Regions from separate parts of the Homo sapiens genome. Here region 1 is linked to region 2. Evidence: fine-mapped expression QTL. A gene starts in region 2. The other region holds a variant in brackets. All regions are shown on one strand. Distances are between the middles of the regions. Region 1 overlaps ZNF598 (zinc finger protein 598, E3 ubiquitin ligase). Region 2 holds the start of NOXO1 (NADPH oxidase organizer 1).

Evidence for each region. PIP is the estimated chance that this variant, and not a neighbour inherited with it, causes the effect.
Region 1: its variant is the best candidate, but not a certain one, in a credible set for the expression of NOXO1 in whole blood (TOPMed, PIP 0.54).

Annotation. Positions count from the first base shown.
Region 1 is chr16:2,000,434-2,004,801 of GRCh38, forward strand. ZNF598 (zinc finger protein 598, E3 ubiquitin ligase) reads right to left here. Exons shown (of 14, transcript NM_178167.5): 4 at 3,183-3,295; 5 at 2,558-2,687; 6 at 2,088-2,299; 7 at 1,773-1,990; 8 at 1,150-1,267; 9 at 571-758; 10 at 1-48. Among named protein-coding and RNA genes, the nearest start is that of ZNF598, 7.2 kb to the right of the region's middle. RefSeq lists a silencer at 3,608-3,677. The variant G/A (reference allele first, on the strand shown) is at 2,372.
Region 2 is chr16:1,979,096-1,983,437 of GRCh38, forward strand. NOXO1 (NADPH oxidase organizer 1) reads right to left here and starts at 2,374. Exons shown (of 8, transcript NM_172167.3): 1 at 2,019-2,374; 2 at 1,844-1,924; 3 at 1,561-1,636; 4 at 1,272-1,449; 5 at 902-1,086; 6 at 695-808; 7 at 330-447; 8 at 1-254. The coding sequence starts at 2,084. TBL3 (transducin beta like 3) reads left to right here. Exons shown (of 22, transcript NM_006453.3): 22 at 1-3,834. RefSeq lists enhancers at 1-76, 77-656, 657-1,234, 1,235-1,814, 2,291-2,350 and silencers at 221-340, 1,133-1,427, 3,637-3,829.

The sequences.
Region 1 (4,368 bases), 21 kb after region 2:
AGAAGGCTTCTTGGCTTACAGGACCATTTGTCGAGGTTTCCTTGGGGCCTATGAAGAACACAAGGCCCCCAGGTCAGGTCAGGGTGTGGGGACAGGCCCTCTGGGGACTGGCAGTGCAGGGTGCTCTTCAACCTCCCAGGTGAAGGCCTGGAGCGTCCCAGGCACCGTGCCCATCAAGAGCTGGCCACTAAGCTGGACATCGTGGCTTACACCTATAATCCCAGCACTCTGGGAGGCTGAGGTGGGCGGATCACCTGAGGTCAGGAGTTTGAGACCAGCCTGGCCAACATGGTGAAACCCCATCTCTACTAAAAATAGAAAAACAAGCCAGGCGTGGGGGCAGGCACCTGTCATCCCAGCTACTCGGGAGGCTGAGGCAGGAGAATCACTTGAACCCGGGAGGCAGAAGTTGCACTGAGCCAAGATTCCGCCACTGCACCAGCCTGGGCAACAGAGTGAGACTCTGTCTGTCTCACAAAAAACAAACAAACAAACAAACAAACAAAAAAAAAGAGCTAGCCACTGACCTCCTAGCCCGGGCAGAGCTGCCACCAGGTAGGGCTTACTCACCTGGGCCTTCGCCCTGAGTCCGGGGTGAGCGCCGGGGGCCACGGGGATCCTCAGGTCCCCGCGCCGCTGCCTCCTCCTTCTTGGGCCTACCGCCTTCCTCCTGATCCTCACTCCTGCGAGCCTCCTCCTGCTGCTGTGCGGCCACGGAGGCCCGGACAGCAGCTGCTACTTCTCGGTCCTCTTCTTCCCTGGGACAAGGAGGCCAGCCTTCAGGCTGAGCATGGCCCGAGACCAATGCCTCAGGCGGGCAGTGCCTGGGCCCAGTGTGTGGGGCGATCATCTGGGGTCTGATGCCTCTGCCCTGCAGGGCTGCCGGGGCGGTGCTTCCTCGTACAGCTGCGGTGACCGCCCAATTGACACAGGCCCCTTTCACCCACCCCAACCCTGGGATCTGTGGCTGTGGCTAGAACTGGAGAAAAGAGAGAGAAACTTGTGCCCACCAAGGACCCTCAACAGACCCTACTGCCACTCAGGACCCCAGGAACTCTGGCCACAATCCCTGACCCCATCCCCACTCCCAGCTTGGCCACTGGCCACGGTCACCACAGGAGAATGTCAGCGGCACGCAAGGTCCCCCACCTTTTGTACCTCCAGCTTCCTCGGCGGCTCTGCTGGGCTCCGCGAGTGCCAGCCCGGGCCACTCGGCCCTGGCGGCTGTACCTGTCCACCTCCTCGTAGTCTTCGCCACCAACGACCCCTGCGGCCAGCAGACAGCCCGTCACTTCCCGGGACCCCGGGACGACAATAGGAGGAACAGGCCTGCCGTCAAGGCCACACCCGGCCAATGCTCAGGCCTGGATGGCAGAGGCTTTCCTACCCACAGTGCACATGAGCCCGGGAGTGGCACAGGAGCCTCGCAGGGTCCACGCCAGCCACGGGCCTCTACGACCTGGGTGCCAAGCCACAGGAGCAGTGGGAAGGGAGAGGAGGAGGGTCCCCGAGCCCCAGGTGGGATCTGCATACAGCAGATGCTCAGTAAAAGCCTCCTGGTCCAGGGAAGGGCCCCGGGCACCCAGGGCAGCAGACCCGAGACCCTGAGGGAGCAAGAGCTCCTGGCACACAAGGGGTGCTCGGGCGCTCCAGCCTGGCCGGAGGGTGGGAGGTCAGCTCCTGCACCCACAGCTCGGTCTCATCTCAGGCTCCAGAGCAGGGCATGGTCATGCGGCCCCACCTGGGGGCATCCAGGCCAGGTGCCTGCTCACCCTCGTTCCGGCGCGAGTGCCGTGGCGCGTAGCTGAACTGCAGGTCGATGTGGCGGTTCTGGCGTGCCTCGGCGCGGCTGCGACTGTGGCAGGCCGTCCTGTGGGCCTTGAGGTCGATCTCGGTGCGGAAGGCGTGGGTGAACTGCTCCGTGCTGCAGCGGCCTTCCTCACACAGAAAGTGCTTCTCCCGGAAGTGCTCACGCAGGTAGGCATAGTCGCTGGCAGGAGATGGGGTGTCGGTAGGAGGGCTGCAGCCCGGTTAGCCCCACGCCCTCGGGGAGGGAGGGTCATCTGTCTGTCTGCTGCCCGGCCCACCTGTAGTAGTCCTGGGCCCCGTCCGAGTCGCAGAAGTGGCAGAAGTAGTGGTCGCGGCGCAGGTGCTTAAGCAGCTCATCATTGTCCAGGTAGCGCTCGTCACAGAACTTGCAGAGCGGGTGCCCACGGTGCGACGTGTCATCGGGGTCACCCTGCATGCGATGCCGGGCCAGGTCCTTGCGCGAGTACCACTTGCGCTCATATGTGAAGATCTACAAGGCACAGGAGGCTGGGCACAGGCTGGGGGACCCCAAGCCTCCTGCCTCTTCCCACAGGCCAGTGGC[G/A]GAGCAGCAAGGGGCGGGAGAGGGCCCCGCCAGCAGCCAGAGGCCTCCCTGCCACGTGCAGCCTGACCCTCAGGGGGCCATCCGGGGCCAGAAGCAGCAGGTGGACAAGCCCCTCCCAGCCGTGTGGCCACATCCCTTGCACCACCCACCGCCTAGGCTCTCTCCGGGGTCGCTGGGGGGGCACACCTGGAGGTGCTGGAGGCACAGACGGCAGCAGAAGAGCTCATGCTGCCTCCGCATGTGCTGCTCCAGGTCCCCGAAGAGGCTGAAAGGTGGCAGCTCGGGGCACCGCGGGCACTCGTGCTGCAGCAGCTGCCTAGGAAGACACCGAGAGCCGCCCACGGCCCCAGGACATTCAGTGTCACCGCCGGGAGCAGGGCCACTCACCAGGCCCCAGGCCCGTGACCCAGGACAGATGCAAGGCCATGGCTGTGCACATGGCCTGGGTCAGAAGCCTGGCTCTAGCCCTGAGCCCATGAGCTGCCCCTCCTCTGAGAGACCAGCCCTGGGACAGCTGTACCCTTTATAGGATTTTCAGGCCACGGGCCTGGCTCACACACCTCGTGTGCCCCTCAAGGTGCCCCCGAGGCAGGTGCTGCACCACCTGGGCATGCCTTTCCCCAGCACAACCACCAGCTCTACCCCCAGGAGGGCCTGGTAAGCCTCCCCAGTCACAGGATGGAAACCCAGGTGCCTGGCCCCAGCATTGGTGCACCAGGTGGCCCCCGAAGTGCCTCCGGTTGTGAGGAGAGTGGGACGTGAAGGGCCACAACCACAGGGAGGCCAGGACCCAGGGAGAGGCCCTGCTCACCTGTACAATGCGTACACCTTTCCATCTGCAAAGTAGATATCATATTTCTTCTCATGCTGCAGCTGGTGGATGGGGATGGTGGCAAAGGCAGGAAGCTTCTTCCCAAAGACCACCTAGAGCCAAAAACCAGAGGGGTGGTGAGCAGGACTGGGATGGGACCCCCACCTGGGATGCAACGGAGGCTCAGAGGCAAGGGAGCCCTCACAGACCCTCTAAGAAGGAGTGAGGCATAAAGGGTCCTCCTAGGAGGCCCCAGCAGGCAGCGGCCCCTGGCACCCTGGCCTAGGCCTCCCCTCCTCACCCCAACCCGCTTGCCTAGGGTCAGGGGCAGAGGACAGAGACACAACGCCAGGCCTCTCCACCAGGGGGCGGCAAGGCCAGTCCCTAAGCAGCCACGCCCCACCGGCCGGGGCCCTCACCCGGTGGCTCCACCCTGCGGGGAACAGAGCAGCTGTCGCTCTGCGGAGCTTTCCAGGACAGAGAAGAAACGTGTTCCAAGCAGCTGCTAAGGGAATACCAATGGCCGCCAGCCGGGGATGCATCAGGTGACAAGGCCCGGCTACCCTGTCCGGCGCCCCCGCCCCCACGTTTCCATGGCGCCTTCACGGCACGAGGCTCAAGCCGACCACCTCAGCTCCGTGCATCCTCAGCAGGCGCTGCAGAGCCTCTGCGTGGGCCCCTTCCCAGGGGTCTCTGGCACCTGCAAAGCTGGCTGCCAGAGGACTTGCCCGTCTGCCCTGTGCCCTCCACAGACGGCCCCGGCATCCCTGCTCAGCTCAGCACCCCTGCTCTCCACGAAGCTCTGCTGGGGAGGACCCTCGCTGCCCCCATGCCAGCAGAGATTGGTGCCACCCACCCCTTGGGTTGGTCAAGCCCCCTTCTGGCTCCATCACTGTCCCAAGCCTGGCACTGGTCACTCGCCTCGGCTCTGGGCCCTTAGAGCAGCTCAAGGCCTCAAGCGCACATCCAGGGCAGGGGGACGTCCTCACCCGGGCAAGGGTCATGCCAAGGTCATGTTAAGTTTACCTTAGCCCCTTAGCCAAAGAGAATGTCGGGCTGGAACGGCCGTGAAGCTGGGAAACCTGAGGCTTGGCAGGAAGAGCCAGTCCCACACGTGCTCAGGGGGTCCTGGGGTGTCTCTGTCCCCCAGAGCAGGTGGTTAAATCTGACTCCCCAGGAGGGTCAG
Region 2 (4,342 bases):
GAGGGCGGCCCTGGCGCCGTGGGCGCCGCTCCAGGGCCCTGCGTGTGACGGTGCAGCAGCGGCTCTGGATGGCGCCCGGCGAAGGTCGGGTGGGCACGGTGGGGGGAGGGGCGGTGGCCTGGGAGGGTTCAGGGAAGCCCCGGGCCTCACCCGCCGGGTCGTCTCCTCCACGGAACCCCGTCCCGCTCAGGAGAGCGCCCAGCCCTTCCGGCCGCAGCAGCACCGCGGGGAGTAGGCCCGCCCGGTCGCCGTACCTGCGAGGGGCGGGGTGTGGTTAGGGCCCCGCCCGCCTCGGCTAGCCTGCCCTGCCCACGCCCGCTCCCGCGTACCTGCATAGCCACCAGCCGCGGTCTGACGTTTCCAACACGCGCACGCGCGCCCCCGCGGGCACGGACAGCTCATCTGCGCGGCTGCTCTCGTAGGCGCGGGAAGCACAGAACTGGGGACCTGGTGGGAGTGGGTGTTTGGAGTCACCGCGGGGCCACAGAGGACGAGGCCCGCCCGCACCCTTCTCCACATTCTCCTTGCTTGAGTCTGCTGACGGCGGGGCCGCTCTAAGACCGGTTCGGGGCTTCCTCTAGGTGCGGAGACCAAGCACGGGCTCCTGGCCCGCCCTGCCCGCGGTGCTTCTGGCCCAGTCTTGCCACACGGTCAAGCCGCAGTGGTGGCGTGAGGGGTGGGGTTAGGCGCATACCGCTGCTCCCTAGGGACGGGCCTCCCTCCCGGCCTTGGCCCGGGGCCGCCTCCTCCAGGTAGGGCGCTGGAAACCAGGCGGTCTGCCGGTCTTCGTTCTCCACCAGCCACCAGCCTGTGCGCAAGAAGCGGGCAGGGACTCAAATCTCGAGGCTCCCTCGGGTCCAGGAGCAGAGGAGCAAATCCCTGGGTTCTTGGGGGGCCCTACCTGAGGGGTGCCGCAGCAGCACGTCCAGGCTCTCCTGGGCCTGCGCCTGAAAAGGCCTATCCCGCGTGTCCTGGGTACAGAAGGGCTGCAGGCAGCGCAGGCTCTGAGCCTCCAGACTGTGGATGGAGAGGCGGCCCGCAGCGCGAGAAAGAGGCTGCTCCTCTGGGGTGGGCAGGATCACCCGGCTGGGAAGGGCAGCCCGTACGAGTGAGAGGTAGGCGGATGGGGAGGGTGAAACTGGGGGCGCCACCCCGGCAAGACCGCCAGCCTCCCACTCTCTGCCCCTATTCGCTGGCTGTTCCCCCCCACCCTGGACCTCTCCCAGCTCCAAACGCCGCTGCATGCTGGGAGTTTGGGGCGAGTCAGGCACCTGCCGGGTGGCAGCGCGGGCTCCAGGTCCAGGGGTTGCGGTGCGAAGAAGCCAGTGATCGTCGGGCTCCGTGCCACGCGCTCTGCAGTCGCCAGCAGCCTCCGAGAATAGGTTTCCAACAGCTGCAGGCGCGCCAGGCCGCGGCTCGTGCGCCCCACGCGTCCCAACAGTGGTGCATCTTAAGGCACCACAAAAACGTACTGTGATACGCCGCTTTGGGCTTCACTGGTCCCTGGCGCCCCCAGGCAAGCCACCGCCTTCCCCGCTCCCGTACCCAGGCTGGCCTGACCGAGAAGCTTTGGGAGAACGCGGTCAGATCTCCGCAGCAGGCCCGCCTCCACCGGGAAGGTCTCCTTGAGGGTCTTCTGAGGGCGGGAACCAGGGCATTGGTCTTCCAGAGCCCACTGTGCACCCTTGAGAGGGCGGGGTCCCTCACCCGGATGGCAGGGGCTGGGAGCTTCAGCAGGGACGAAGGGCCTCCAGTGGGAGTCACTGATGGGAGGCAGTCCAGTGGGAGGCAGCCGCGTGGGGAAGCCGCCACCGCGGCATCAGGGTGGCCCAGGGTCACTCACCTTGAGCTGCCTGAATTCGTCCCAACTCCTGCGCACGAAGGTGTCGCTGCCGTCTGACCAGCGCACAGAGAAGGCAAACGTCTGGGGGACAAAAAGTTGGGAGTGCCGTGGAGGTGCTGGTCCAGGCACCCCCTTCCTATCCCTTGGGGCCACTAAGGACCCAGCCAGGTCTTACTTGGAGCCTCTTGATCTGCACCAGGGCTGCCCCTTGCACTGAAACTGGGTATCGGGGGCCTGCCATGGCTGTGGCTTCCAGGCTGCAGATTCCTGAAATGGGCGAGGACCCTTCTGCCTCCCCGTGCTTGAGAGGGCTCTGGGGGACCCAGAAAACCCCCTGGGATAGAATCCTGGCAACACCTCAAGCCTGTGGGGTCCTTGTGGAGCCGCCCCAGCTGAGTCCTTTGCAGCTTTCTTGCTGTCCCCCAAGCCCACGATCTGGGGGCAGGAGCACAGGGATTGGGGGACTTCCAGGCAGAGCTGCTGGGAGGAAGAAGAAGAATGAGCTTTCCAGCCCTGGAGGCGTGCAAGACTGAAGAAGGGGCGAAGGGTAGGCGGGACTGCTGCCTGGGGCCCTCCTGCCTGCCTCTGGCCACAGGAGGAGGGAGGAGAAGGCAGGGCTAATCAAAGCGCCACCTGTCCTGCCCACCTCTCTGGATTCCCCTACCCTGTGAGGTAATTGCCCTGCCAGGGTGCGCCCAACAACTTTGAACTGGCCTGGGGATTTCTGTGCAGAACCAAGGACTCAGTGCTTACAGCTTTAAGTGCTTTGTCTGACTTAATCCTAATGCTGGAGGAAAGGTCTCTTAATGTCCCCAACTCATAGAGGAGGAAATGTGTGTTAAATGCGTAATTATTGTGAGCTGTTCTATACATGCTGGGGGAGGGGCAGACCTCACAGGCTCACCCCAGGGGTTCCCCTGCAGTGAGGAGACTTGGGGTAGGAGAAAGAGGGCCCATCTGTGCAGTCACTGGCATTTGGTGGGTGGGGGTGGTGGTCAGGGAAGTGGTCACTAGGGCTGTTTTGAGAACCACCTCTCAATTCACGATTTGCCATGACTTACTGCAAACATGGCCTGGGCAGAGGCTCGCCCAGGTGCCCCACCTCTCTGGCTGCTTCCTTATAGTTCGGGCTTCGGAAGCCACATTCAACCCTGGCACACAGTGGTTTTTCCTCGTGCTGGGGCCACCAGTTCTGTGTTGGGATGCACCTACTCCAGCCCCTTCAGGGAGCAGTCAGCCTCTAAGGCATCCCTCCAGGAAGCTGCCCTGGCTGCAACAAAGGGCCTTTGTGTGTCTGTCCCACCAGCACTCTCTCTCATGCCCTCAAGCTGTCCCTGGTCTTGGCATGGGCAATGAACACCTGCTCACATAGGGCTGATTTGCAGGGTTCCCCCAGCCAGCTGTCACCTTCTCCCTGTCTCAGCTGAGGGCCCAGCTGACCTGGTGGGGTCCAGCGTGTGAACCCAGGGGAGACCTTGCTCCCCTGGAAGACAGGAGAAGCTGGGGAGGATTTATTCACAAGCAGAGGCCTAGAGGGATTCTGAGGCCACCTGCCTACCCCAGCTGACAGCTCCTGCCCCACACCCCATCAGCCCTGCATGGTTTCCACTTTTTCCTCCCCTACCCTCTTTTCTTGCCTGAATAGTACACCCCACCCTCCATCTGTATGCTCCTCACTTGCCCCTACAAAATCCACTCCAAGGACAGACACAGTGCCTCACCTGTAATCCAAGTACTTTGGGAGGCCGAGGCAGGGGGATTGCTTGAGCTCAGGAGTTCGAGACCAGTCTGGGCAACATGTTGAGACCTCCATCTGTGCCCCCCAAAAATACAAAAATTAGCTGGGCGTGGTGGCGTGTGCCTGTAGTCTACTTGGGAGGCTGAGGTGGGAGATCACTTGAGCCTAAGCAGTCGCGGCTGCAGTGAACAAGATCGCGCCACTGCACTCCACCCTGGGTAACGGAACAAGACCCTGTCTCAAAAAAAAAAAAGAAATCCACTCCCCATATGATAGCCAGCGGAATCTGCAGCAAACTGAAATGGGATCAGATTGGGTAACCTTGCCCAAAACTGTCTAGCATCTTCCCTCCTACCGTTATAATAAATTCCCAATCCCCGAAGCTGCCGACCAAGTCTTTGGTGGGCCCCTGTCCGTCCCTGGATCTCCCCTCCCACCTTACAACCCTCCCTAGCGTCCCACTGGCGTTTTTGTTCCTGCAAAATGCCAAGACCCTGCCACCTTGGGCTTGGTCTCGAAGGCGCTCCTCAGCTGATTCCTCATCCTTCAGAAAGGGTCACCTCCTCAAGGAGGCCTTCCAGATTTACTACACCCTTGCATGGACCCACCAGTTTGTACGTGAACATTTATGAGTGTGAGTCCTTGTTTTTTTTTCCTGTCTTGACCACTGGATTATGAACAGAGAAGGTCAGGGAACAGAATTGTGTTCCCTGCTCTGCCCAGCACTTGGAACAGCGCTTGGAACAGAGCGGTCACTGCGC